Homo sapiens: one gene and its partners. The protein of the gene in region 4 interacts with the protein of the main gene of each other region in a pairwise test. Each region holds a gene or a part of one and is shown on either strand. Other genes may lie near its edges.

The links.
Region 1: the proteins of ELOVL4 (region 4) and ANKRD46 interact in binary tests that used the Homo sapiens proteins (3 or more experiments, as listed by UniProt).
Region 2: the proteins of ELOVL4 (region 4) and TMEM243 interact in binary tests that used the Homo sapiens proteins (3 or more experiments, as listed by UniProt).
Region 3: the proteins of ELOVL4 (region 4) and PLP1 interact in binary tests that used the Homo sapiens proteins (3 or more experiments, as listed by UniProt).

What each region holds. Positions count from the first base shown.
Region 1 is NC_000008.11:100,556,760-100,564,734, forward strand, and holds the start of ANKRD46 (ankyrin repeat domain-containing protein 46), read right to left. Parts: upstream 3,001-7,975; 5' UTR 2,952-3,000; exon of another isoform or gene 2,279-2,951; intron 1-2,278.
Region 2 is NC_000007.14:87,195,733-87,202,752, forward strand, and holds the end of TMEM243 (transmembrane protein 243), read right to left. Parts: exon of another isoform or gene 6,448-7,020; intron 5,495-6,447; exon of another isoform or gene 3,326-5,494; coding exon 3,275-3,325; exon of another isoform or gene 2,314-3,274; coding exon 2,209-2,313; coding exon of another isoform or gene 2,083-2,208; exon of another isoform or gene 1,950-2,082; intron 1,027-1,949; coding exon 904-1,026; 3' UTR 428-903; downstream 1-427.
Region 3 is NC_000023.11:103,771,904-103,779,858, reverse strand, and holds the start of PLP1 (myelin proteolipid protein), read right to left. Parts: upstream 3,020-7,955; 5' UTR 2,864-3,019; coding exon 2,860-2,863; intron 1-2,859.
Region 4 is NC_000006.12:79,944,550-79,952,374, reverse strand, and holds the start of ELOVL4 (very long chain fatty acid elongase 4), read left to right. Parts: upstream 1-4,988; 5' UTR 4,989-5,095; coding exon 5,096-5,195; intron 5,196-7,825. Other genes in the region: uncharacterized protein LOC124901350, read left to right, coding at 4,560-4,988. UniProt on the Homo sapiens protein: Catalyzes the first and rate-limiting reaction of the four reactions that constitute the long-chain fatty acids elongation cycle.

The DNA of each region.
Region 1 (7,975 bases), on a different chromosome or scaffold from region 4:
AGGAGGAGACACAGTTGGTCACTTTCTCCCTGAAAAACTCTTTACTTGGCCTTCAGTACTCCATACTCGCTTCTTTTTCCTCCTACCTTCAAAAGCCTCTCCTTTGTAATTATTCATCTCTCCAATATCTGAATGTGGAAAGCCCTAGAGCTCAATTCTCATTTCCTTACACTAGATCTCATAGGCTCATGGCTTTAAATACTACCCTTCTGTGCAGGGGTAGCCAATCTTTTGGCTTTCCTGGGCCACAGTGGAATAACTGTCTTGGGGCACACATATAACGATAGCTGATGAGCTTAAAAAAAAATACAATCAATCTCATAATGTTTTAAGTAAGTTTACAAATTTGGGTTGCACAAGCTTGCATTAGTGACTTCCCAAATTTCTATTTCCAGTTGGACCTTTCTCTTCAACTCCCGTCTCTATAACCCCACTTGAACAGGCATCTCAAACCTGACTAAAACTGGCTCCACCTACCTTCACACTCAGTCTTCTCCATCTCAGTACACTGTTTAACTAAAGCCTTCCAATAGCTCAGGCCAAAGGCCACAGGGTCGTGCTTCACCCTTTCTCTCATAAGCACATCCAAACCATAAGCAAATCCTATCAGCAATACTCAGAATACGACGGCTTCTTACTGCCTCTCTTACTACCCACCTGGTCTAAGCCACCATTCTCTCTGGCTTCAATTACTGCATCAACCTAACAGGTCTCCCTGCTTCCATCCTTGCCCTTACAGTCAACACTGAACACAGCAGCCAGAGTGATCCTTTAAAAACCTTAAGCCAGATCCCCTCATTCCTCTGCTCAAAACCCTCCAAACACCTCCCTTCTCACTCAGAGTAAAAGCAAAAGTCCTTACCTGGGCCCATTAGCTCTCTGACCTTGTCTCACCCTCCTTCCCTCCAGGTGCTCAAATCTACTGGCCTCCTTGCTGTTCCTCTCTTGCTGTCCCTCTAACAAGACTGAAGGGTTCTGGGCTTTTGCCCTTGCTTGGTATGCTCTTTCCCTAGACAGCTGCATGGCGGTCCCCAACGCCTTCAGTTTTGCTTGAGTCTTTTCCATGGCACCAGTCCTTATTTTAAAACTGCACCTGTTCCTTCCTTGGTGCTTCCTATCCCCCTTTGCTACTTTATTTTTATTCCTAGTAACTGTTACCATCTGACTCCAGATACGTTAACTTTCACAAATCCCGCTTATCGTCCCCAACCCCACCTTCCTCCAGTGACATGTTAGCTCCTGGAAGACAAGGACTTCATTTTGTTCACTCTCACATCCCCCAGTGCTTAGAACAGAGCCTGGCCATAGAAGGCACTCAATATACGCTTGCTATATGAATGCCGAATATGCAAATTCTTAAATCTATAATAGGTAAGGCTAAGAAGTTTGGGACTATAAAGCCCAACTTATTTCCACAATGGGAAATACAATTTCCCTTTTGATAAAGAACTGTGAGAATCCTTTGTTTTCCATAGTAACACAATTTATATAACATGCCAAAAATTCCTTATCACTTCACATCCTCTCTCCAGTGCCTTTCCTGTATTCTGTAAAATATTAACTTACTATCATCAAAAAATCTTTGATTTCCCTCTGGTACTGCTACCATAATAATGCAAAGGCAAAGTGAACTCACTAAAAAATGGTATGGAAACATAAATAATGAAGAAATGTAATAAAGTGTGTTAACAACCAAACAAATTCATCTCTATTTCAAATCAAATTGTACTGGCACAGTGAGAACCCCAGTCCAAGTTTAACTTTATTATCACTATAGTCCTTAATGAGCTAACAGTTTTCTTACTAAACTCCTTTTAAACTAAAAAGGAGTTCATGTAGGACTCCTGCATATAACCATGAAAACTAAGCCTGAGAGAAATCAGTTCAGGCTACAAATCTAATTGATAAAACTCTTAGACAGCGCTACATGTTTGGCTAGATAACAGACGCAGGGATACTGAAGTAAGGGAGATGAGACCAAATCTCGCTCAGCCTTTGCTAGCTTTCTGACCTTGGAGAAGTCAGACTCTCGGTGCCTCAGTTTCCTTATCTGTATAATGGAAATGGTACCTGATAGGGTTGCTTCAAGGATTAAAGGTACCAGGTATTTAAAGCAATGGCACCGTGTCTGACATAAAATAAGCACTGAAAATAGCTATTACTAGAACATAAAAATAATCCCCACACCACTCATATTACAGCTCTTTAAGAGGCTCCTAGGTACCACCGTCATTTTTTAAAGATTGAGAAGCGCTACTATTCAATGGCATATTTTTACCTTATTATGTTCTGTAGCCAATTCCGAATACCGTGGAACGTTACAAAAAACAGATGTTATTTTCTTGAGGTACTGTTGGGAAAACCTCAGAGAGAACGATCTGCTTTTTAGCACTGCAAGCCAATTAAGGGAGGAAGTTTGCGATTACCCGAGCCCTAAGTGGAAGGTGTGCAAATCCTTCCTTTTAACCCGGGCACCCCGGAGCCATGTGCCATTCTGGAGAGCTCACTCACACCCCAACAGCTTGTCCCGGCGCCTGAACTGTGCGCTCCTGCAAGCACACGCCGCGAAAGCACCGTCTCGCCCCGGCCGAGCAGCTGGACCTGCGGCGTGGCTTCCGCGCTCCACCCCCCGATTAACCGCGAGCCAGGGCTGCCCGCGCTGCCCAGGGGTTCCCCGGACCACAGCCCTAACCCGCAAGCGCAAACGAGAACCCTCGCAGGCCTCTGCCCGGCCCTCGTGAACACACAGACCGCGAAGAAGCCATCACGGACCCGCGGTCGCTTCCTCGGCCCGGCTCCCTCCAGTCGCCGCGGAAGGTGTGGGAAGCCCGGGCACCCTCGCCCCTCAGGGCCCCGGCCAGGCCTACTGGACCTCCAGTGCTACAGGGACGGTGCAGGAGATATCAAGTGGCTCTAGCCCAGGCGCTGCCCACAGGCCCCGGGCCAAGTACCTGCGACTCGAACGAGCAGCAGCGACAGCGGCAGCTTCAAGGAGGCGGTGACGGGCGGAGGGGAGGGGCCAGACAGGGGTAGTCGGAGTCCCCGCTGGGCCAGAGCGGTCTCGCGCTGCAGCCCCCGGCGCGCCCCCTGCAGGTGGGCGGTCCTCACGGTGGCTCGGGCTGCTCTGAGTCAGAGACTCCGGGAAAGCCTGCTCTGAATTAGGGAAAGCATCAAAACTGTGGCTTCAGAAGAGAAAGACAGCCTAGAAGAGGTTTATCCGATCTGAGTCCGGGAGCATTTTGCACTTTTCACGTCCTATTCTAAATTCACATCCCATCCCCTTAGCTAAATGGGGGCTTCAAAGGCAAGGGCAGTTTCATTAGGTGCTATAAGCATCAATTAATAGTTGCTGGCCTCTAGGTAGGTCTTCTATAGACCCGAAATTGACATATTAGGAATAGCCACTAATGATTGGCTGCACTATTTCTAAAATATAACCCTGCATTTTTACTTTTTTCAAAAGCAGTTTGAATCTTTTTTTTTTTTTTTTTTTTTAGACGGAGTCTCACTCTGTCGCCCAGGCTGGAGTGCAGTTGCTCAACCTCGGCTCACTGCAAACTCCAACTCCGCCTTCCGGGTTCAAGCGATTCGCAGTTTGAATCCTTCCATCCTACTTTGTAGGGTTCCTTGACTTATTGCAACATGTACAGCCAAGACTAACTAAAAGTGTGGTGGGACATTCATATGCTGGAAACATTCTTTCATGCAAAACTAGTTTTTTCTTTTTTTCATTTTACCAACTCCAGTCCTACAGCCAAGACAACTCTCACTGCACAGTGACCGTCCTCTGAATTCTAGCACCCTCATCCAACCAAGCCACGCTCTATGGCAAACTTGTCCAACCCCTGGCCCACACCTGCAGGCTGCATGCAGCCAAGACAGTTTAGAATGCAGCCCAACACAAATTAATAAACTCTCTTAAAACATTATGAGTTTTTTTTTTTTTGCAATTTTTTTTTAGCTCATCAACAATTGCTGGTGTTAGTGTATTTTATGTGTGGCCCAAGACAATTCTTCTTCCAATGTGGCCCAGGGAAGCCAAAAGATTGGACACCCCTGCTCTAGGGTATCTCATGGTTCATTCATTCAAGGACCACCTACACCATCTAATAATTTGTTCTTGAAAGTGTCATGTAAAGGTTTAGGACTATTGTCATATTAGAGGAAATCACTATTACATTTCTTTCATGTAAGAATTATAAGATCTGGCCATGCACGGTGGCTCACACCTGTAATCCCAGCACTTTGGGATGCTGGGGTGGACAGATCACTTGAGGTCAGGAGTTCGAGACCAGCCGGACCAACATGGTGAAACCTTGGCTCTACAAAAATACAAAAATTAGCCAGGCACGGTGTTGCACACCTGTAATCCCAGCTACTCAGGAGGCTGAGGCACAAGAATCCTTGAACCCCAAAAGGCGGAGGTCACAATGAGCCGAGATCTCACCACTGCACTCCAGCCTGGGTGACAGAACAAGACTCCATCTCAAAAAAAAAAAAGTTATAAGATCTTAGGGCATTTCACATTTTATTGTGCTATGACTAATCAGCAATATTACTTGTTAAATTGATGACATTTATTAATCAGTTTGTTATTGATGTCCTCCTTCTGGTTGTGTATTGAGTTTATAATATCTTCACTGATGCCTATAAACTATGACAAATTAGCAAGGAAATTAAAGCTTTTCCCAATGTATTAATAAGATTTACTCTTCATTAGTTGACTCATCCAACAATCTGAGAGCCTCTCCATTACTTCTATTCAAATTTATCTCTTCCTCTTCATGAATTACTGCTTTTGATTGATATGAAAAAATGTAGGGATGGTGAAGACAGCTTTTTTCTCTGATGAGATTAAAGTGAACTGCATGCTGCACATATTCTATGGCTCCTTCATGTTACCACACCTGGGCACTTTGACACAGTGGCTGTTAGGAGCTGATATGGTTTGGCTGTGTCCCTGCCCAAAATCTCATCTTGAATTATAATAATACCCATATGTCAAGGGCAGGACCAGGTGAAGATAATTGAATCATGGGGGCAGTTTCCCCTATGCTGTTCTCATGAGAGCGCGTGAGTTCTCATGAGATCTGATGGTTTTATAAGGGGCTTCTCCTTTTGCTCAGCACTCATTCTGTCTCCTACCACCCTGTCAAGAAGTGCCTTCTGCCATGATTGTAAGTTTCCTAAGGCTGCCCCAGCCATGCAGAATTGTGATTCAACTGTGAGTCAATCACACGTCTTTTCTTATAAATTACTCAGTCTTAGGTGTTTCTTCATAGCAGTGTGAGAATGGACTAATACAGGAGCATTTGCAGAAGCCATTCCTACTCTCCAGCAATAAGTTAATAGTGCATGGAAGTGACCACGAACCACATGAACGTCTCCCATTAAATGCAAACCAAAGTACCCCCAGCTGCATTTCTGTTTAGCTGGATCCCAAAAATGCCTGTAGTCACTCCAATGTTAGCCAGTAGAAGAATACTCCGGAAGTCTCAGTGGAAAGAGAGAAATCTTAATCAATTGTAGGTAAAGTATTTTAATTTTGCAAGCTTTACAAAAACATATAACCATATCAGCACTGCTTCCCAGGGCCTTGGAAGGGGCCTGAACAAGGGAGGGCTATATATTGGTTTCCTATTGTCATTGTAACAAATTACCCTAAATTTAATACTTTAAAACAAGGATTATTTTACAGTTCAAGAGGTGAGAAGTCCAAAATCAGTTTCGCTGAGCTAAAATCAAAGTGCGGGAAGTGCTTTCCTTCTGGAGATTCTCAGGGGAGTTGGTTGCCATGCCTTCTCCAGCTCCTAGAGGCCACCTACGTCCCTGGCTCATGGCTCCTTTTTCCATCCTCAAAGCTAGCAGTGTAGAGCATTTTTACACCCCTCTGACTTCTGCTTCTGTCCTTGCATTTCCTCTGTGACTCTCCTGTCTCCTTATAAGGACCCTTGTGATTATATTGGGCACACTTGGATAATCCAGAATAATCTCCCTATCTCAAGATCTTTCACTTAATCACATTTGCAAAGTTCTTTTTACCATGCAAAGCAACATATTCATAGATTCTGGGGATTAGGATTAGGATGTGGACATCTTTGAGGATCTGTTATCCAGCCTACCACAAGAGCCCTGAAGCTTAAACTTTACACTCTTCAGGTAAGTCTGCCTCTTCTTCCTCATTACTAAAATCTATCTGGTCCTGAGTTTTGATCGTGAGAGTTCCAATGGCGGAGGAATACCTGTAATTACAACCGAGATAAGTGTCATGAAGCGAAAGAGAAAGGATTCCTTGAGGGCAAACAATATGGGAGCTAATTTAGATAGAAGGGCAACAATGTCTTTGAATAAGTGATATTTAATCTAAGATGCAAAGCATGAGGAATTAATTATGTAATGAACAAGGGAAGTATTCTAGACAGAGGAGACGGTATGTTTGGCCTGTGAATCCTGATGGCAGAAAGCTATCACCTTCTGTGGCAGTGTCTCTACCACTGAATCCTTAGCACCACCACGGTGACTGGCACATCAGACATGTTTGGGAATATTAGCTTAGTAGTTTTCAACCTGGCAGCATGTTACAATCATGCAGCAGCTTAAAAAATAACAGTGCCAGCCGGGCGCGGCATCTCACGCCTGTAATCCCAGCACTTTGTGAGGCCGAGGCGGGTGGATCATGAGATCAGGAGTTCAAGACCAGCCTGGCCAAGATGGTGAAACCCCATCCCTACTAAAGATACGAACATTAGCCGGGCGTGGTGGTGGGTGCCTGTAATCCCAGCTACTTGGGAGGCTGAGGCATAGACTTGCTTGAACTTGGGAGCCAGAGGTTGCCATGAGCCAAGATCGTGCCACTGCCCTCCAGCCTGGGCCACAGAGCAAGACTCTGTCTAAAAAAAAAAAAAAAACAGGGCCTGGGCCCTAGCCAAGATCAAGTTAGAATCATCTGGAAGCACGGCCCAGGCATCTGCATTTTTAAAAGCTGCTCAGGGAACTCTAATGTGCAGCCAGGATTGAGTTGAGAATCGCTGTATTAGATACAATTGAGTGAATGAATGAATAAGTGAAAGGAAATATTTGCTTTGGGTAGGCTTTTCATTTAGAAAGTTTTCTTATTAGGGATAAGAAGGGTTTTGACTATATTCGTTATATAAATTCCTATCCAGTCTTAAAAAATGCAGACAGACTTTCAAAAATATTATACTTGAATGCTCATCAGAAGAGACTGAAAGTGATCTAGCAACTATCCCAATGTAACTAGCTGTCTCTGTAGAAAGGCGATATGGTCAGAATGGGGAGGTGTTTGAAAAAAATACACCGCACCTACGAAGTAAGTGTTTTGAGCTCTGCTTTCCTGTTCCAGGGTGCATTTGGTTTCTGTAGTACTGACGAATGACCATGAGAGGGAGACATGCTCCTGACAGGTGTTGCTTCCGTGGGTCTCCCATCTCTCAAGCCCGGCTAGCACGAATCAGGTGTTTTCCACAACACTGTGGGTTCTCAGGCATAACAATGGAATGAGTAAGTACAGGAGATGAGACAAGTAGCACATATTTATCTACACCAAAGTTAGGGTCATTTCCGTTCCCCAACAATTTTAAACATTTAAACAACCAGAAAAAAAAAAATGAAGTGTTTTGTGTGCCGGACATATTTGCGAAACTATTAGAGAAAAAATTTGAAGCCAGGAGAATAATATTTTCCTAGAGCAACTGGCACAACTAAAAAATATTCAAGAAAAACTTTCAGAAAGGGATCTCTTTTCTTAATTGCAAAGTAAAATCTTAGATGTCCTTGGGTTTCTGAAGTTACTAAGATAACAGTTGGACTCTTGGAAAGAAAAAAAACGATCTCAGCTCCTTGCCATAACATCCATTTGTCATTTCTCTTTCCACTTACCTACACATGCCAGAACCACACAGATTGTCACACACACACACAAGGCAAAATATGATGGAATGTACATTTAGGCAAG
Region 2 (7,020 bases), on a different chromosome or scaffold from region 4:
AATTCACTACAGGTTTTTTGTTACTTTTAAAGGGAATATGGATAAGCATAGTAACAAAACCCACCAGAATCTAAGCAGTTTTCACCCCCTCAGAAACCACTGTCATTAGTTTACAAAGTTAGCACTTTGAAGTAAAACTAAATGAGGAAGGAAGTAATGTTACCTATCCTTGATACCATGACCATTTATTAGATGTTTTGCTATATAAATTACCGAGAGAATAGTTTGTCATCCACTTAGTGTGTTAGCTGGTGGGGTACAATATAACCTCTCATCTCAGGCTATTTTAAAAAAACAATATTTGCTTCTATAACAAAAGGAAACAAATCTAAGAATCATTCCTGTACTACAGAAGGGTTAAGGCAAAGGTAGCCTTTTGGGCTTTTTAATGAATATGACCCCTATAGAAAAGTCAAGAAAAAAAAACCCTTGTATAAATTATTTTATTTATTATTGTAATTAGATCTTCACAAAGTTGTCTTTTCACTGTGTTTTGTCAACGTGAAATTAAATTGTAGTTATAAGCAAAAGTTGGTTGCCTAGGGAACAATTGTATATTCAGTTTAACAGAAATAAAAGAATATTTGTCTTAAGATGCAAGATTTGTTTTTACATAGCCTTTTGCCATACAATTATAAAAATTTCATTTCAAAAGTGAAATTTTTTTGTGCTGTTTTAGCTTTAAGGGTTGGAATGTTTAGGTGCAACATCAGCTCCTTAAAGAAAAAGCAAAGTGATCTAGGATATGTCTCCCTTGCAAGAGGGAATTAACATTTACAATTAACATGAAAATCATGTATCAGACTTCTGCAGGAGATTCTTCAGCATACCTTATCCAAAAATTACTCACTGTCCTAATGTATCATTTTGAAGAGTCCTGGTAAGTACTTCTCCTTGGCAGCCTCACCTTCCCACATCATGGAAGTACAGGTTTGCACATATACACAACATGATGATAGAAAATATGATATAGTAAATTAGCTTTCTAAATTTCGGTTCTAAGTCTCCTTGTCGATACCAGTAGATCTAAAAGAAGAATTAAAGTTTATAAATTAAAATTTGAAATATAACATTTTCTCTACCAATTTCAAATTTCATTAGTATTTGTTTATTCCCCTAAATGAGACAGACATTCTCCATATTCTGAGGTCTCTACATTCCTGAGATCAGTACAGCCAGAATTTAATTCTTACTCTGAGTTTCCACATCCAAGATCATACTTATTCCTACTTTCTCAGTTTACTTTCCTCTATATTCACACCTGTATACTCCACCAGTCATCTGGCAAGCTATCCAAGAACATATACCTGGGCATACTACTTAACAGGAAAGGAAGACAACATTTAGACTCATGATTCATACAGTTGGTTCAGACCGTAAAATAGGGCTTCCATAATATATTTGGATTAAACTAGTTCATTGTCTGTTAGTCACTTTAGGCTTCAAGCTAGGGGAACAGGAAAGCTCCCAAAGTGGGATGGGCTAGTTCTTCTTCGGGTCATGGGAGTATATAGCAGGATCAGTGAATGAGAACACTTGGAGGTGTCTCCTGGTTTAATTAATTTTAACTCAGATAAGCAAATTACTATTGTTTTTTCTTTTGATTCTGCCTCTAAAGGAACATGAAACAATGTAGCCAACTAATGAATGAACACTGAGGAGCCACCACCATCTTTGTTTCTTCACCATAAAAGAAACATTTGCAGTAAATCAAACATTTTTACAACAACTGCAGCTTTAGATTTCCCAGGAGGTTTTGGTGTTAATACCTCCATTTTGGGAAACAAACATGTAGATTAAACTAATTTTGTAATAATTAGAATTAAATCCAGAGTGCTCTATCTCTTCCCTTAGCAGTAACTGGCATTTCCCAAAGACTGTTGGCCCTTACGTAGTCCTTGAGTGAAGATGAATTAAGTAAATTAAAATCTTTGGCCACCTACGTCTTTCCACTAATTTTTTTTTTTTTTTTTTTTTTTTTTTTAAGCTATCAAGGGAGTGGAATTTCTCTTTGGGGTTACAACTTTGGGATTTAGGAGAAAAGGAGAAGACTCAGATTTTATTGAGAATTCTAACATACTTTTAGGGGGAGGATGAGGATATAATTAAGAGATACCCTTTTGTATAGACCCAAGGCTGAAAATTTTTGTCCTGTGCATTGCAACTTAAACCCTCAAGAACACTGTTTAAATTCTCAACAGTACTTACAAGTATGCAGGCAGTAATACTACTCAAAGAGATGCAGACAGCAAAGAATATATTCAACGGTTTTGGAGGTAGTTGAGGGAAAACAAAAGCACTTATCAGCGTTACCTGTATGAAGAGAAATTATGTAAGGCCTTAACAGTAATTCCAAGACTTGGTAATTACCAACTGGAGTCTAGGCAACAGTACTACAAAATGCTTCATGTTATAAAATTACATCTGCCACCAAGTTTGCTTTCTAGAATGTTAATACAGTAATTATAAATATGTTCGAGTTATTTTAGTACTTCTTTTCTAAACTTTCCCTTACTTATGAAAGGAGAGAAAACATCAGTAATACTAGCTGATGCCAAAATAACTTCATTAACTAAACCTCACTCCCAGGATTAATGATTCTGCTGGTAAAAGTTCTAGCCATTTTGTTATTTTAAATATTTCTAGCAAAATGAATATAATCAAAGCTGGTTTTGCTATAACATTATGAAACACACTGAAAGACTTCTAATGTTGTATAGTTCTGTTTCTAACAGATGCAGCATTATATGCAATCTTTTCATTAAGAAGCCATGGAAAAAAATTCTCTTAAATTTAATGTGCCAGAAAAATGTCAAACTATGGAAAATACAGCTTTTAAAAATTTTATTGTAATAGCTCCCAGATGTATACTGTATACAGGATGTATACAGTACAACTACTATACACTGTGACCAAATCTTTTAAAACTTGACCAAAGGGTAATGGATATGTTCTTCAGGAACAAAATAGAAATGGGGAATTATGGTAGATGACAGAAGGAAGTGGCTACTAGCCACTGACATTTTTACAAATTTACTAGGCAAAACATGGTAAACTCAATTATCTTAAAACGAAGTTGTCTGACTTGTACCATTTCACATATTCAACCTGGGGGTGGGGCAGAATTAAATTAGCTACTCCAATTAGCAACTGCAATTTTGTGGTAATAAAATTAAAAGCACTTATTTAGCTTTTTTTGGAAAGTTAACCATAATTGATAAAGTTTTCAAAACTGGCTAAGAGCCTGGGTGAGGCACAAAATGAGGATACTTACTAGAATCAATAAGGATGTTAAGCTGCCAACAACTAAATTGATGATTCGATCCTGAAAGAGAAAAGAATTTTTAAGCCATATGACTTGGATCCATGTTACCTTCAGTATAGTACAATGCAAGGCATTTGGATGGTTTACTATAAAGAAACCCAAGATCCAGTCCTCTGAGCTTTACACATAAAACTACCAGACAAAGCAAAGTGTACTGAACCATAAGAGTGGAAAATGTACTTTGGGAAAATGGCCAACTGGGGAAGGTTTCTTGAAGGGACAGAACATTTATACTAGAGTCTTGATTGGGTAGTATCAAATGGGTAAGGGAGGCTTACAAATAATGCATGTGCTGCTGAGGATAGCATAAGCCAAAGGAGAAGGACAGGCACTGCAGGAATGGCCAGGCCAGAGCATTGGTTAAAGGTATCAGGAACCGGACTAGATGTAGAGTACCATGATGTGTCTGGAACTATATTTGTAATACAGCTTAGGTATCCTTGTCTAGTCTAAAAATAGATGCTACTGTTAAAAGGGATGGGTCCTAGAGTGCCAAGGCTTGGCACTTGCAATCTTAAGAGACCATCCAGTCCAGTAGTTTTTCCAAGTTATTTAATAGTGAAGGGCTTTAGTATATAAACAAAATATTGGTTGAATGAAGAACCTACCTACTGAGCTTTCTTGTCATTCCCATCCCACCCCAACCAACAAAGAATGTTTGAAAAACTGATCCAATCCTAATTTTACAGGTTAAACTAAATTTAGGCCCAGTGTGGTTAAATTATTTTCTAAGAGTCATAACAAGTTAGAAGCAATTTTGAAACCAGAGATTCCTAAATCCAGGTCACTGGTTAGAAGTAGTTTCAGGTACTACTAAAAAGGTAAAGTATGATAGTGACATGCAGTCTTATTTCTGAGAAGTCAAAGCTGAGTCTTTAACGAATCAGTCGTCTTAAATGTTGTTTTGATAATGGTCTGAGCAGAGAATGGCAGGATATGGAACATGCCGCCAATAAACAAAACCTCAGAGATGGGAAGGACACAGGAACAATCACAGAGCAGCAACCGAATTCTCATTTCCAAGTAGTCGCCTTTTAAGGATAAGAACCCACAGAAGTTAAGAGTCAGGCAAAATTGGGAGGGAAAGAGTAAGAAAGCCAAGTATTGGATGTGTGTGATCTAACCAAGGACAAATCACAACTCTCCAGACCAAGGCCACTGCAACTGAAAGGTTACAGAACAAAAGATACTGGACTCCAGCCACACCCTAACTCCAGAGGACTCAGAAGAGATCTTACCACGACCTCAGCTAGAGAAGCCTACACAGCACACAGGAGCCTGAACTTAGGACCACTTTGTTAGGAAAGGGACCCAGGGACAAGTCACCACTCACTTTAACTTCTTCCCACATGGGACAACATAAAATGTGTAGAGAGACAAAATCCATGGGAGCCCCACTATTTTTGAGAAGCAAGAATATCTGCTGCTCTCTGAGCGCCAGGGATTTCCAAAATGAAGCACTGCATACCTCATAACAGCTCCCACCAATAGAAGTCAAGCCAATATATCACTAATTGCCAAATGACACACAGCAAGTTGCCTACCAGGATCAAAGTAGGAGAAAAATAATGGTAAAAGGATATTAACTATGCCAAGCACATTCACCAATCCTCTCTTTAAAAATTCTAGGATGAAATGGTAATATGACTGTTTCACAGGTAGCAAAACAGGCTCAGGGAAACTGAGAACTTTCCCAAGATCTCAATACCATTAAGTGATAAAGACAAGATTCAGTGCCAGGCCTCCTTTCCCTATTTATGCTTCTCACCCAAAGAACAACCTAGAGTGCTAGTGCTGGTCTAGACAAAGATGTCAAGTGGCAGATGACACCTCAAAAAGCCTATTAGCAAAGTACTACACTGTGCTTACCTTTCAAGAATGATTTCCTCATGGGTGACTTTGTTCCACATTTTTGGATTTCTCCATATAACTGATTTTAATCATCCTGATGAAAATATATCTAAACTTTAATGAATACTTTCCTGCCTACCTTTTAGATAGTCACTGAACAGAATTCCAACAGATTTTCATGAATATCAGTTATTGTTATAATGTAGTGGTCCCCTCTGGGATTCCCAAGATGGGATGAACTATTTCGGACATGGCAGAAGTGTTTCTCAGAATATTTTCTTTCTCCAAGCCAAGGCCTTCTATCAACCATGAATTCAGGTATGCAGAGTTAACTTCAGAAGCCCTCCTACTTCTAATGCTCTCTGTTTTAAACTTGCTACTCAAAGTGTAGTCTATGAACCAGCACATCGGCCTCACCTGAGAGAACTGCAAGAAATGCAGAATCTTAGGCCTCACTGAGACCAACTGAATCAGAATCTGCGTTTTAACAGGATCTGGTAATTTATGTGCACATTTAAAATGGAGAGGCTGTGCTCTAAAGTTTAGTCTAAAATAAGCCATTTTTAAATATTAAGTTCAAATCACAGGGTACAGCTCCTTCCCTGGGCCTAGAGATTATTTTTCAGGGTTTTAGCAGCTCTTCTAGCTCCCAATCTCCAAAGAGGATAATAGAGAATAATTAAATAGCTAGTTAATTAACACTTCAAAGGACAGTTTGGGGAATAATATGCTCCAAATTGGAGCTAGAGTACATGGAGAAAAGTGAGTAATACATTTAAACTTTGCTGTTTATGGAGTAAATTGAAACTCATTATTTCTACTTCTACAGCTAGTCTCTATTAACTCAATTATTTCTCACAGAAACTAGCTCTGTCTCCTCCCCAGTTTTATTTTCACTCTAGTTCTACCTACCATAACTTGTCTCTCCTACCAGAATTTTAAACCTTGTACTGTGGCTTATTTTCACTCCACAAGGAAGCTTGACAGGACAAAGGATGGCAATTAGCCTGGATCCTTGCCTGCTGAGAGGACAGGATACAGATTTAGGATTTCCTTCCCAGAGACAAAATATTCTGCAACAGGTTTAGAGATAGTCTGAATTCATATATACATGAACATAAAGACAGACGTTGTGTGCATACATACATGTATATATATAGTTGAGATTTCACCTATATCATCTTGTAAGTCATATATTTATGCATTTAAACATTATCTACTATAATTCAGATGCAAATACAAAAGTGAATAAAAACATCTCTACCTTCCAGAAGTTTACACTATCCAGAGTTCAGGAGGGCACTAAGAAGACAGAAAGTGAGCTATCTTGGACAGTCAAGGAGAGACTACCAGAGAAGTCAAAACCCTGAGGAAGACTAGCAGATGAAAAGGAAAGGAAAGATGGTTCATGAAAGGAATTCCACAAAGACCCATGGGAGAACAAAAGCATTGCTGTTACAAAAAATCAATGGGACAAATGGAGATTGTTGACCAAGTTTCATGAGAGCTGAGAGGAAAAGAGCTGGAATGCAATGCACAGTGAAGAGCCTGGGCCTGACGGATTCATGTCTTTGTCTTCCTTTAGAATGAGGAAGGAGAAAAAGATGGAGATATATGCAACTGGTTTGTATCTGGAATGGTGGAAAGCAAGTAAGGAGTGTTATCTCTATTTACCAATGGGTAACTAGGTTCCAGAAGACTGACTTGCCAAAGGTCACACGGCTAGGTAATGGCAAAAAATCTCCTATCCAATGCTGTTCACAAAAGACAAGTGTAATGAACAGTTCAAAAGGTCTAACAGTCCTAAAACTAATAAATACAGACCTTAACACGGTCTAGAAACC
Region 3 (7,955 bases), on a different chromosome or scaffold from region 4:
GCTTTCAAGGCTTCAGGACGATAGACAAAAGCAATGGGGGAAAGTGATGTTACTGGCTGGAGTTCTACCTTAATGGGTTTGGAGACTATATTTCCCCTCCCACCCACCTCCCAGGGTTGAGGTTGTTATTACTCAGATCGCTCTGAGAGAGCAGTTCCAGTTGTCAGCCTGTTAAGTAAACTTCTGGCTTTCCTAGCTCAGAGCCAAGCCCAAGGCCCCCTAAAGCAGGGTAGACCTTTCAAACTGCCTGGCTTTCCAAGAACTCCTCTGGCTCTGCACGGCCAAAGGGAGAAGTGAGGTAGAGAAGGCTGCACTTGATTATTTTAGTCAGTGTCTCCAGGAAGACTAGGTGAACATGCTGGCTGGGATCTGGTTTATTTTTGGCTCCTGGTATTCTTGGGGCATTCTTGCCATTTTGATGGGACTCAGTTAGTCTTCGGGCATTTTATAAAACTGGACCCCCGCTCTGCCGCCACACTTTTTGCCTGGGCTACACCCACTTACTGCAAGCCAGCCAAAACTACACTGCTTGGCAAACAGCCACTTTTGGATGGAGGCATCACAGTCTGGTTACCAGGGTAACAGCCACTGTTCTCAGACGACAACAGGCTTGCAGACAATGTTTTGCTGTTCAATAATGGCATTGTGTTTCAGAGCAGAGAATAATCAGCTACTGCTCTTTTGCTCCTTTCTGGTTCCATCATTATCCCAAAGACTCACTTGGAACATTCCCCTTCCAAATCAAGGCAAAAATTAATGAGCTATCATTTTCCCCATAAATCTTTTGTGCAGACACTACTGAATCAGTGTTCCTCCTTGCTTCCAATCCTAAGGGATTCTATATGGTTGAAGTAGTAAGTTCCCTGTTCCTGGAGGTGATTAAGCAGAGGCTGTACGAACATTTAATTGGTTGTTGTAAAAATGAATCCCGCATTGAAGGTTGGCTCAGACAACTTCTAAAGTTCCTTCCAATCCCGGATTCCATGATACAATGTGTTTACTGCAATTGTTGAACAGCAGTGCACTCCACATCAGAAGTAGTGGCAGTCCAGTACCTTGTTAGAGATGATCTATAATTCAAAGTACTTTAGATACTCTGTTATTGAATAAATGAAAACTCAGTGGCTGCTCCATCATATGTACCTGGCCCAAGTATCGTCCACCCTTAGGACCTGGGACCCAATGTGCATCCTCAATCGTGCCCTTATCTGTGGCACTCTTCCTCTGGAGGAAACCACCCAGCCTCCATAACAGGCAATTGTCCCTGTGGTCACTTTATTTGTTCCTGCCTTTCCTCAGGGATTTCATCCCCTGAGGAAGTAATATTCAACATCCTTCTTTACTCCCTCTCTGTTTTTAATGCACAACCTATCCAGTCAGCTCGGCTGACATTAGATAGGATTCCTGATGTTACCCAGGGCAGGAATTGAGTTCCTCCAACATTCACCTCTCATCTGGTCACACATAATTGGTCAAATGATTCTGACCCAAGCACGCAAAGAAAACCCAACCACCCTGGAAAGAGGAAGAGTTCGCCTGTATACACATTATTGTCTAATAGTAGGTATTATCATGATTTACAGTTGTTATAGATCTTGCCCATTTTCAAAGGACTTTGACATTATTGTTACTTGATTCTCACAACCCTGAAAGTAGACAAAGTAGTTATTGCTGTCCCCATTTTCCAGATGAGGAAGTGGTGATTCAGTGACCTGTCCAAGGTCACATAGTTCATAAGTAGCAGATCTGGGATTTGAATCTGATTTTTCCGACTCCCTGTCCAGTGCTCTCCCTCCTGTTTTACCTGAACACATGCTTCAAAGTGTTCTCTCTGTGTTTCATGATGAAACAACCTAAAGGCTGAACCAGCTCAGTATAATTGCAAATTGATCTCTGTGGATGTTGTCTACTGGATGCTACATTTGATAGGGAATACATGGGGCAACTGAGTCTCATTTCATTTAGGATGTGTTTAAGCTGCTATCTTTGTTTTGCCAAATGTTAGCAATGTCTACAGGACTCTGTGGAGTCCAATAGGGACAAAGACCCTTGTGCTCTGCACACATTACTCTGAGTAGAAACTACCACCAGAACTTCATAGCTTCTGTCTTTGTTCACGGAACCTAGAAAAGCCCTCAATACTCAGCCAACTTAGCAAGAGCCCTAATGTCCCAGCATCCTCCTTGTCACAGCAAAGAGCCTTCAGGAAAGCTGTGTCTGTGATATTTGCTAGAAATGATCAACCCTATATGTGCACACACATGCACATATGCACATACACACACACACTCCTACCCATATCTGTTTCCCATGGTCAAGCCATTGAGGACTTTACTTTCATTTCCTGAACCTGAGAATGGCCTCCTCAGCCATAGCCAAGCCTGAGTCCAGCTTGCCCGATCCCCAGCTTCCTATTAATGCCAAACATGGTTCAAAGTTTGCATCAAGCAAGCAGTTATTTTGTACATCTGAGGGCTAGACAGTGCTCAGTGGCCTCCAGCAGAACCAGGAGGGCAAGCTGACCCAACCGTTGCCAGGGCCTTGGAACCAAGGGAAAAGAGAAGATAGAGGGAAGTGAGGGGGTAGGAGGACACATGACCACATCCATCCAGCTGGGCACTCTCTCCAGAGATCTGTGGGACTCTCCACGTGCTGCTGGAATTCTTTGGTAATAAAGCATCATGCTTAGTACAGCGGAGAAGGAGTTAATCTAACTGAATGTTAAGGAATTTAAAAAGAAAACAAGTGCCAAAACACGACTCATTTAAACCATGGAACCCCCGAACCCCAAAGTTGGAAATTCTCTTGTGAATTCCTGTGTCCTCTTGAATCTTCAATGCTAAAGTTTTTGAAACTTACCCATGTCTTTGGGACTCTGACTCCAATTGTAGCCGGCTGGCTAGTCTGCTTTGTGGCTGACTTTGTTCAGCTGGAAGGATCCTGGTCTCTCCAGCCTCCTTCTTCGGTCTTTTACTTTTTCTCTCTGAGTATCTTTGTCCTCTTCTCCTGCAATGAAAAGGGCTTTCTGATTGACAGCCAACCCCCTTAAAGGGACAGGCCTGCTTTCCTCCTCCTCTCCTCCTCCCTTCTCCTCCCCTTTTCCCCACCTACTCAGGGATACTCCCTTCTCTAAGGGCTCCATCTTCTCTTTCTGCCTTTCACTGCCAATTGTTTCATTTTCTTTGTTTTTCCTTTTTTCCCTAAGGCTTGCCTGGAATTTCGCTTTGCTGCAGAGACATCTGGAAATGTGGATTGAGGGTGGAAATAAAATGAAGATGTCCTGGAAACTTCCAACTGATCCTTGGGTCTAATTGGTGTGGGATATGCAGCACAAGCGTGAGAAGCCATGAAGTGAGAGCCCCAACAGGGGCTCAGAGTCAAAAACCTAGATATTAGCTCCCAAAGTCCTTCCGAATCTGCTCCAGCTCCCCACATCACTCCTAGCTGCCCTTGGCCCTCTCCACCTTTCCCCTCCCGATTCCTTGGAAAATAAGCGTTCCTCCCCCACCCCCACCCCCAGCTCTACGAACACAATAGAGAAGAAAAAATTGTCTTTTAAGATAATTTCCTCCAAATCCTTCTCAGTTTCAACTGCATGAAGACAAAATGCAGGCTGTCAATTCGATGAACAGATTGTGATTAGGCTGGGGGAGGCTAGAATTGTAATAATTTTATAGCTACAATAATAAAGACCCAGAAGTGGGCAAGACCTATGCAAGTTCACAGACTAGGTTAAAGAAAAGGCCAGCGTTGAAGATGTGGGTGATTTCCAAGAAGGATAATCGACTTCGAGACAAGTCAAGAACACGATCTGGGAATCAGGTAGTCAGTATTCTATCCTGAGAGTGTAATATCTTCATCAGAGAGCTTAAGCCAGGCAGACAAGAGGCAGGGAGTGGGTTAGAGTGAAGCAGCAGGTGGCAGTGAGGGTGGAGAGAAGAAACGAAATATAGTCCTTGCCACAGAGAAAGAAGCGGTAAGACAAAAATGGCTAAGCAGCAAAAACAGGGAAATACTATATAAAACCTGCCTTAGCAATAAGCTATTTCTAAAGACTGTGAAGGTATTTAAATGCCCACTGCTAGATGGGATCAGCCTGGGAAGGTTTTCTAGAACAGGTGAATCTTAAACAGTGTCTGTCTGGGCTCCTTGTCAGTCCTGTCTCCCTTCACAGCTCCCTTGACCTAGAGGCCGGTGTCCTCCCATGGATGGCCTTTAAAACAACTGGCTGGCATATAATAAGAGGGGCACCTGTTGGAAGACTCCGGAGAAGGAAGGTATGGTCTCCTGGAACTTTTCCTGTGATTTTGCCTTGGGAGAGGAGAGAAGAGGAGGGAGATACTGAGCAGAGACTAGTACCTTCCTGGGGTGGGAGAAAGGCAAGATTGTGTCTTACAGTTTTCTCTTTGGGCTGTGACTTTGGACATGTTACTGGCTTGGGCTCTGCTGTTAGGAAATGGACGAGTCTTTGGCAGATGCCCCTGTGGGCCCACTGGGGCCAAATCCTGCACCGTTTGAGGCTTGCTTAGAGTACTAGAACTCTAGATCCTTTGCTCTTGTATCAGCCCCAAGAAAAAAGGATCTCTGGAAATGCTGCCCCTTGCAAAACGGTATAATAGTAGCTTTCCAGAGCAGACGAGACTAAGGCCATGTGACTGATGGAAAAGGGTCCTAGAGCCCCTCGCCCTCCCCAGCCCTGCTCGCCAGCCACAGACTATGCCTGCTTTGGAAGCTCAACTGTAGGATTGAGCCAGCAATAAACTTCTGGATGGTCACTGTCGGAATGGCCCTGGAGAAGGGGGAGGACCAAGAGCAAGAAATCGCCAAATGTGTCTCCTCAGCTCATCAGATGGCAGGAGTGAGCCCAAACTTTGGGAGTTCAGATTTAGAGGATGAGGCAAATGATCCTTCACAGCTCGAATAGATGAGACAGCTCTCCACACAGGGGACATCACTCAGACTGAGCCCTCTCACAAAGCTTCCCCTGAGTTCTCAGCAGCAGCTCTGGGGACAGCAACTCTACTGGAAAGAAAATATGTGTTCCCAATAAACCCACAGATACCAATTTATCAACCACATTCCCTTAACACACATTTCTCTTCTCCTTTCTTCCATCTCCATTGCCTTAATATTCATTCTATCCTCTCCCCAAGTCTCAATCTCTTTGTCTCTGTTACCTGTCTCTGTCTCTGTTTCTCTCTATGTGTCTGTCTCTGTTTCCTTTTTCTCTCTCCACATTCCCTGTCTTCGCCTTGTTCTTATGCTTGTTCTTATGCCCAGGGCCAGAAAAGGGACCCAGCCAGGTGACCGTGTCTCACTCATCCCAGTGCCTTAAGGTTCCCAACTCCCTAGAATCTAGTGTGTTCTCATTGCTCTGTACATCCCGACACTCTGCCTCAGTACCTCGTCAGCAGACCTTTCCTGAGGGCTCCCTACAGACCTCATAGGGTATCTTCCCAGGTCCTCCAGAGCCCATTTTTATCTACATACCCCCACCTATTTCTGTGATTCTGCTTCCATTGGTTCTGCTGGGTGCCCTTGGCAAAATATTCTTGAGTCCAGCTAGGCTCCTGCACTGCCAAGGGATTCCTCAAGAGGCACTGCCAGCCTTCTTGGTGCAGCCTGCTGCCTGTACTGGGTGCCTGTGGGAACAATGCAGGATTGTATAAAACTCGTAAACAGTTTGCTTCATGCAATTCTGATGGTACCTCAGAGAATCTGGGCCCCCTTGATCATGGCTTGGTTTGACTGTGCAGCTTTCTTGCAAATAACTCGAAAACACTTGAATATTACCTCCACTCTCTGCTCTATGATCCCATAGTATCAGATTATTGAAGGCCACAGATCAAGTGGGTTCTCCTTGCTTCATTGTGTAGACTGAACTCTAAAACTCAGAGAAGTCCAGTGAATTTCTCCCAGGAAAAACTAGATAAGGGATCAAGTGCCCAATCTAGTGGCCAACTTCTCCCTGAGCACAGAGAAGAACATAAAGGGGAAGAGAGAAGCGCGTACCAGTGAAAGCCTGGGTCATCTGCTATTATTTGGGCTTCTAGAGCTGAGGCTTTGCTTCTCATTCCCAGGATAATGTCTTCCCAGACCAAATTTTGGAAGGCAGCTTTCCTAGCCCTGGCATAGAAGACTGGCTGGCTGGCAGGCAGGCAGTATATTATGTCCTATGTACTGTGGCTAGAACTTTCCACACCCAACTTCATGCCGATTGGCTAGACTATGCCTTTCTGGCCAAGAGAACCGAGGGCTGAGGGCCAGAGATGTCACATACTTTGAGCTGGCAGACAGGGGTAGAGAGTGGAGGGTGATCTTCTGCCTTTCCTGAAGGTTCAAGGAACAATGGGAGGATGGATAGGGGCAGGCCATGGGGTGTATTTGTGAGGGGGAGATGCCCGTGGCTTGGGATGGAGTAAAGAGTAGCCTGGAAGCCAAAATAATCACATGAAAAATCTCAGCTAAAGAATGCCTGAGGAGCACCACATAGCTACTAGCAATGTGAAGAAACAAGCTGTCCACAGAACCCACCTCCACCAACATAAAAACTTGGCCAGCTTTTGCAGGGTTGCCCCTGCAGGGAGGATGCTTGTTTGATGTGATTTCTGAGCAAAGTAGAAATAAAACTAGTATTATTTCTGGGGAACCAATGTTATTTGTTCAATTTGACTGATGGGATACTGAGACAATTTTCCCAATGGCACCTAGCAAGCAAAGACCAGAGCCATCTCTAGAGAATGCCTGTCTCCAGACTCTTATTGCTTGGAAGTTGCTTGGGAGGTTGTTCTGCTGTGAAAAAATGTGTGAATAGAGAGCCTTTGCCCTGAGCAACAACAGCCGGGGGCTGGGGGAGGATGGACAGGCTTCGGGCTGCTGTAGCCCAAGTTTTCAACCTTCTACACTTCTCAGGTTAAGTAGGAGGCCGCTATTTGAAACCCAGGGCAGAGGCAAACTTCCGGCAGTTTGTAGGATCAGTGGGGTTCCAAATTAGTCAGTAACTAGTCAACATGGTGAAACCCTGTCTCTACTAAAACTATAAAAATTAGCCAGGCATGGTGGTGCATGCCTGTAATTCCAGCTGCTCGGGAGGTTGAGGCACAAGAAGTGCTTGAACCTGGAAGGCAGAGGTTACAGTGAGGCGAGATGGTGCCACTGCGCTCCGACAGATCTCAAAAAAAAAAAAAAAAAAAGATTACACAAGATACTGAACATAAAATTCTTACCATAGTGCCTATGCTCAAGTATAATAACAATAATAATAATAATCACCAGATGGGGTGACAGAGTATCTCTGCAAATGTTTGATAAGCATTTAAAAAATAGAGGCTGAACTTTAGTGATCTCTAGAACCAACACCTTTCAGATCCAGGATTCCTATACTTCCCCTGAACCTGCCTATCTTTAAAATGGAGCCAAGGATATGTGCTTTGAAGAAATGTTGAGACTCTTTGAGACACACCTAGCAGTTTCTTTGTGTATTTGTTGTCTTCTAACATCTCCACCAGCACCTCTGGGTATGTCTATCACTAGGGTGACCAATCACCAATCATCCCGGTTTGCCAGGAACGAAGAGATCCCAAGATGTGGGACTTTCAGTGCTAAAAATGGGTACGGCCTGGGAAAACCAAAACAAGTTGGTCAGCCTACACCAGCACTGGAACACTGCCTTAAGCATTGTGCTTGAAGCAGTTGCCTCAAGGGCTGCCAACAACAAAAGCAGGTGTTAGGTTCCCCTTGCTGAAATCACTAAATGGGAAGTCCCCAAAGCCCCCCATTCCTCTGCTCTTTGAAATATCACGCCCAGGCAAGTAGGGTTGTCAGATAAAATACATGATGCTCAACTCAATTAAATTTGACTTTCAGATAAACAATGAATAATCATTTAAGTATATCCGAAATACTGGATGGGTCATACTTATACTGAGAAATTGCTCATTGTTTGTCTGAAAGTC
Region 4 (7,825 bases):
TTCTGGAATCAACTAAATGCTTGCCTAGAACCAAGTATTTTTCTGATGTCTTGGGTTTTTAAAAGTAAGTCCTTGAAATACAGCTGGTTTCTTTCCTCTATCATGGTGAGTTTATTTCCCCTCAGGCTCTTTTTATCTTCTCCTACCCTGAAACCAGATTGCTCTTCAGTAATAGGAATATGAGAGCAGGGTGAAAAGGCATTCCCCATTAACACTTGGAATTTATTACCAGATTTCTTGGACCAAAGTTTGTTGATATCCATGAAGACAGATATGTTAGAGTAGTAAGTGAAGGAAATCACAACTCAGACAATACTCAATTAAGAGTGACAAAACTTTTCTTGGTATAGCCAAGCCAGGAAAAACGGGCAGAACCACCATGGTTTGGCCCTCTTATCACTATATGCTTGAATGTATGACTAAAAGTGTGGGATATGGCCTTGAAACATGGCTATGTGAAGAGAGACTGGGCTAATGGCTTTGACCGGTAAAGAATACAGATTGGGTGTACATATTGGGTCACACCAAAACAATGAATATCCAATGTAAGTAATTTGTAGTTGTCATTCTTAGGAAAGGAGTAGCATATGTACCTTAGAAATATGCATCAGGGGTTGCAAAGCTGAGAAGGCATTCTGATATATGATTCTGGTGGAGGTGGTGGCGGGTGAACCTAACTTATTCCCAGCATTCAATATGCCTAGTTGAAAATCATTATAATAAATTTAGTAAGAGACAAATAGCAAACTGGGAAAATATATTTGCAACATATGCAGACAAACTGTTAATAACTTTATTATAAGAAGATGTCTTATAAATCAATAAGAAAAAGTAGACACAACTAATGGAAAATGTCTAAAGAATTCAAACAGGCAATTCCTGAAAGAAGGCTAAAATTGCAATAAACATGATAATCTGTCAAGCAACAATGAAATATCAATCTTTACCTCTCAGACTGGTAATGATTACAAAGCATACATTCAGTAAAGAGAATGGGGTGGGGAAATGAGCACCTTTTCATAAATTTTGGTGGAATTGTGAATTGGTACATTTCTGGAGGTTAAGTGGGCACGATGTGTCAAAATTTGTAAACTTAAAACCCTTTGACCAGGTACAGTGGCTCACACCTGTACTCCCAGCACTTTGGGAGGCCAAGGCAGGCAGATCACATGACACCAGGAGTTTGAGACTAGCCTACCTAACATGGTGAAACCCTGTCTCTAATAAAAATACAAAAATTAGCTGGGTGTGATGGCACACACCCGTAATCCCACCTACTCGGGAGGCTGGGGCATGAGAATCCCTTGAACCCGAGAGGCAGAGGTTGCAGTGAGCCGAGACTGGGCCACTGCACTCCAGCTTGGGCGAGACAGTGGGATGCCGTCTCAAAACAAAAACAACCACCTCTCCACCCCTAAAAAAAGTCCCAAACCTTTGACCCAGAAATTTCCCTTGTAAATATTTATGCTAAGAGTTATTAAACAAGTGCACAAAATTGCATATTGTGGATACTAATAGCCCAATTGATACAGTAGTTCAAATTTGAAACAATCTAAATGCTAATCTATAGGGTAAATGGCTACATAAATGAGTGTGTATCCATATAATGGAATATTAAGTACTTGGTATTACGTTGAAAAGTATTCCTGATGTATTAAATTTTTAAAAAAGCAGATTATAGAGTAGCATTATTTTAAAAAACCATCTGTGTTAAGAAAAAAAGGCTTATATAGGCATGTAAAATTTATTTAGAATGGGAGACAAAATTATAGGGGGGATTTTCATTTTGTTTCTTTTTTTGTTATTTTATCTGTGCTAATGTATTATCAGGATAATCTATGTCCATTTAAATAAAATAAAAATAATTCATACAAGCTAACAAAAAGGTAAACATCTTTAAAAGTTTGAATGAAACATATCTCGTGGAAAACATTGTAATTCCAAGTTAGTCAAGCACCTGTGTTATATGATGGCTATAACGTGGGGGAGGAGTAATGAGCAGAATAAAACAAAAGACTGGAACTAATAGTAGTTAGTGTTATCAACAATTTTCTCCATTTTCTCTAAGTAGCATCCATGTAGCAAAATTTACTTCTAGAAGATTCAAAGTCTTTCTCTACAACTCTTTAATTAGGTTATTTCTTTTTACTCCTGACTCAACAGGCTTCCAGGTTCACTTTTCTTTGAAAGCAGAGGTTGCTGACAATATTACCAACATGGAAAGGTGGACTAGGAAAAAAAAGATGGATAGCTTGATTTATGTTGCTAACCTTGTATGGACTGTAGGACATTTAAAAATATTTTGTACTGGGTGTGGTGGCTCACTCCTGTAATCCCAGTGGTTTTGAAGGCCAAGGCAGGAGGATTGCTTGCAGGCAGGAATTTGAGACCAGCCGGGGCAACACAGCCAGTCCTCCTTCTCTATCAGCTATTTAGGAGGCTGAGGCAGGAGGATGAGGCAGGAGGATAGCTCGAGCCCAGGAATTCGATGTTGCACTAACCTATGATTACACCACTGCAATCCAGCCTAGCTGATAGAGTGAGACCCTGTTTCTAAAAAGAAAAAAATATTGCTATTTTATACAAAAAAATTTATGATAAAATGTCCTCTCCTTTAGGTTTTGTAGGTAACTGTATCCTATTTGCATTTGATCCACATGAAAGAACTCTGTTCTCAAAGTTTGCAGATGCTGTTGTTGCTTGTATTTGCTTTTACTCTGTTATGATGCTACCAAGATTTTGGTTAGATGGCTGTTATTCTAGGTGGCAGACATGCGGGTTTCCCTCCCTTTGCACAACTAAACAAGGTAGGCTTTGGTTCTGGGCAGTCACTGGTATTTACAAACCACTTATTCATGCCAGGTAATAGGGTTCCAGATTGGGTAAGTTTTATGTTCTGGTTCTTGGTATATGTTTAGACAGCTTATAAATGTAAATAAACATTCTACTCTTACAGGTGGAGTGTGGACACGGTGATATCCGTGTGACCGCCATTCCCAGCTGAAGGTTATCTCATCTATGATTTTCTTATACGTGACTGGCACCCCCTAGTGAATAGGGACTTAAGTTGACCTCCACGGTAGAAGAAATACCAGGGAAATACCTGAAGCTGTTTTAACAATTTCTCCTTGTATTAAGTATTATGCTGCAGTTTTGCGTGTGTGAATGGAAGTATGGGTAGAGATCTGTTCTCCCTAAAAACTCCAGGATTCCACAATATAGAAATAGTAATCAAATTTTTAGGTGAAGCTCGAACTAATCCGAACTTTGTTAGATCATCACTGTAAATGAATGGGTATTTATCCACTCCCTAAATGAAGAGACTTGACTGGATTTCTTTTTTTTATATAGCTACTAGAATCTGTTACACATAATTTAGGATTGAGACTTGAGAAATTGTCATTCCAATCCAGAAAACTTTAGATTTGCAAATATATTTGACAAATTAATAAATTAACATTTTATTTGGTTAATTTCAAGAATAGGGCATTTAAAGAAGTCTGTGTTTGCTTTAGTTCGGCAATAAAGTTCCTGCCACTCACAATAATCCTTATTATTCTCTGAAAGACATGTTATATTTTTGTCATCATAAATATTTATTAATTACTGTTTATAGCACTGGGTTAGGTACTCATCAAGCAACCAAAAATAATTCTTACCATCTAGGATGCTTCCAATATAAAATATAGACAATATATAACCAGGTCAATTGGGAAATAGATCATTTCAGTATGATAAAAGATAGTATTCACATTAACAGTGTGAAAGGGCAGGAACAATAAGACACTTGACTCACTGGTCTTTAAAATGTAGCATCCAAAATGAGCAAGTGGAGAAAAGGTTAAACAAGTAGGTGACACATTTAAAAAACAAGTAGATGAAAGGACTATTCTCAAAAATCTTGTTTTATGTGAGAAACCATCAAATTATGAATTCCAAGTACTGTATTTTTTTTACTTTTCAAGGGTAGGCTCTCCTATACCTTATCTAAACAATTTTTCAAAATAGCCACAATTACTTTGTTTTCCTCTCTACACTAAATTGCCCTTTGCCTCTTGAGCGATTATCTTTTTCAGATTCACCTCAACTTCTTCAGGTTCAAGCGGACTTCACCTGTAAGCCCCTCTCGGTTCTCCCTCTTCTCTGAACTACTAATGGCCTAATTTAGCACAATTATATTGCTTTGTTCATTCCATGTATAGTAAAAGAGTCTACAAAACACATGCAAGCATTCATGCAATTATATGTTGATTTGTTCATGGGTCGACCCCAAAGTCTATTCTCCATCGCTGAAGCATGGAAGACAAATACCCTTCACTTCTTCAGAGGCATAACACATGCACTTCTCTTGTCATGGTGACAGGCATGTGCTGGTGGAGGTCAAAGAAACAGGAACACAAGTGAAATCGAGGTGAGTGTCAGGTAAGGACCAAAGCACCACGCCTACCTCATCTTTGCCCACAGAACACCCATTCTTCCCGTGTCCTGTTTCCCAGGACGTATCCGGGGCGGATAAGAAATCACCCGTGGGGAGGCGGTGAACTCCTCCGCAGGGGCCGATGCCCGGGACAGGGGCGGGGAAGGCTAATGAGGCGACTTGTGCGGGGAGGGGCCAAGGAGGAGCCCAGGTGTCCCGCTCCCGCTCGACGGCGCGCGCCTGCGCGAGCCCAGTTGGCGTCGCACCCTTGAGCGCAGCATCCCTACGCCAGCGAGTCCCAATACTAGGGAGGGAGGGAGGGAGGAGGGGCGGCCGGCCCCCCGCCCCCGCGCGCGGCCACGTGACGCCGGCTGAGGAGATTGGAGGGGCGGCTGCGCGAGGCTGCAGACTGGTGCAGCGCACTGTGCTGGCGGCTGGGCCTCCTCCACCTCCTCGTCTTTCTCCCGGGAACCTTGACGACGCCTTCCGCTTGGCCCTGCCTTCTGCCGCATCCCCGCCGCCGCGGCGCCTTGAGGAGCAGGAGAAGACGCAGCCGGGCCGCCGCCGTTAGAGGGGTTCCCGGCCGCCGCTCGCCCCGTCGGCCGCCACCGCCTCCGGGGTCAGCCCTCTCTCTGGGTCTCCGCTTTCTCCTGCCGCCAGCGCCCGCTCATCGCCGCGATGGGGCTCCTGGACTCGGAGCCGGGTAGTGTCCTAAACGTAGTGTCCACGGCACTCAACGACACGGTAGAGTTCTACCGCTGGACCTGGTCCATCGCAGGTAAAGCCGCTGACTTCCCCATCCTCGCTCGGTCCCCCGCGGGGGGTCACCGGCCCCTGGTCTCGCAGCTCCCGGGCCCGGCCCCACAGGCCCCCGCGCCCTGCGGCTTTCGGATGCTGCGGATCAGCGGAGGGGCCGGCGCGGGCACTGCGGTTGAGCACTGGTTAATCTGATCCGAATGTTAAGGCCTCCCCTCCCCCGACACTCGCAGGGTTTTCTTCTGAGCTCCCTCCATCTCTCATCAGCTCTCGGATGCGGGAGCTGACATATCAGATGGAGCCTGTGCAGCCAGGAGCTCCTCGCAGGAGCCGCCCCACCCTGTGCTCCCACATCTCCCGAGCTCGCCTCCCTCTTCCCCGTGCACAGGATTCCTTTTAACATTTAGTCCTATTTTGTATGGAGAGCGGGCTGGGGAGGAAGGAGGGCTTCAGGGGCAGCTGAAGGTACAGGAGGTTTCTTCAGCCTCCTGGTCGCTTTGACAGAACCCTGCTAATCTTTTCTTCTATCTAGCTCCTTCATCTATAGTATAATTCGGACTGAAAAGTAAAATAATATTGTTTGGCTCCTTGAACCTTGAAGAATGTTAGTTTCCGAGGCATTTTCAACAGCAAATATGTTTGAAGTGATTGTCTATAATGGCTTTGCGCACTGCAGTGCAGTCAGGGGGAGGGGGAGGCCAAAACACCGGGGAAGAAATCAGTCTTTAGGAAGGGGGTCTCTACAGCAACACCTAGAGGTTGTCCCAGATGCCTACATATATACAGTTCTTAAATCAGCAAACTTTTCTTTAGCTGTTGCAGTTAATTTGGCAGGGCTGTCAATTGTTTGATTTATGCAGCTTTCCTAGCGTCCAACTGTGATATTATATTTTTACATTGTACTGTTTATTTCTTCATTTGCTTCGCTGCTTTTGATTTTAAAGCATTTAAAAGTCTTTGAAATCTAAAATAAGGTTTAAAGGATTTCAGAAATGATTTTACGAGGTCAATTTTTCTGGTCCTTTTGCAGTATCACACTGCATCCTATCAGTGAAGGATATTAACGTTCCATCTTATGACTCTGCCTTCCCTACTTCGAAATGAAAATGTACTCCTGTAGTTTTTGTGTTCATTGTTGTTAGAGGAAATTAGACAGTGGTTACAGCATGAATGTAGTCCGATACATAGGGCTTATGTTTTGGGAAAAACGTATGCTGGAATTATTTTTGTGAGAGACAAAATGATTATTTGGCATTAATACTGCATTCACTTCTTTAGAAAAGTATGTTCTTTTTCAGAAGATCTCAACTTTGACACTGGGAAATAAGCTATTTAATAAGCCATTACAGCTGAAAATGGTTAAAAGGCAGTTTTCAATGGAGTGTTTCTTCAGTTTTTTTTTTTGTTTCTATGCGCTATTACACTGATGTTACACTGTACCTGCAAAAACTGGGAAAGATGTGCCCTTCCCTTCACGTCTGTGATTTCGGTTCTTTAAACGTTGCATCAGGGCTTCCCATTACACAATTGTATAGAGCTGAACATCAGACAAGTTCTTTAGCAGGTAATTGCACTTCGCACACCTAGGAGTCAGACACTGTTGAGATACTCCAGTCTCCATATAGCCAGAGCCACACCCAGGAGTTCTCGGTCCTGTCATTCCTATCCTATCCCGGAGCTTTCCCATCTCTTGAGTCTCAGAAGGAAAAATTGAGGGCAAAGGTAGAATACACCTTTCTGTGATGGTGAATTCCTTCCTGATGATGTTTGTGTAAAAGAAACCACACACACACAAATGAAACAGGAAATTTTGTGCAGTTGCCGCATGTGAAAGCTTGCTACTAGGCTTCGAAGGGCATATAAAATAATATAATATTGTGGGCCAAGCCTGAGAAGTGAGAGTAGCCTTAGAACACAAGTGACCTCTCACTAGCAGGCCGAAGGAAGGTATTTGCCTATGCTTTGACTATCCACTTACGAAACCTGAGACTGCTTCCTTGCTTTCTGTAATGAGCTACCTTATGTAGGCAGATGGTATTTCTTAACCAACAGAGAGGCTTAGTGGATATAGTCTGTTCTGCTGTACTGCTGTGTGAGGAGGAGTATTTTTCAGGTCCAGGCCGAATAGACCTGAAGTCTGTGGTGTCCCATTTACGTTTACTCTCCCTCATTCTATGCCCCTCGTGTTCCTTTTTTTTTTTTTTTTTTTTTTTTGGACTCATTCACTCTGCTCTGATTCCACCTCTCAGCATAATTTGATGAAAATCTGGGTGGGGGATATCAAAATAGAAAAGTAGCTTATAAGATGAGGTTAAACAAAAGTTGGTGAGTCAAATGTTTGGAAAGAAGGGGAAACAGAAATGGGCGGGATAGAAAGATGGTCTTGAGAAATAGTGATGAGTGTGGTGAAAGGATGCAAATTATTGAGGGAGAGCAAGAAATGAGGTAGGCTCCTTGTCCTTGGCTGCTCTCATTCCTAGTGCTGTAGTTACATGCTTCTTTCATTCTTTTATTAATTCATTAAATGCCATTTTGTGCTATTATATCAAATGGTGCTTTAAATATCCAAACATATCCAAAGCAATGTCTGAAAACTGGGCTTTTCAGAGGCACATATGTAGCAAATACAAAATATGGTCCATAATAATGTTA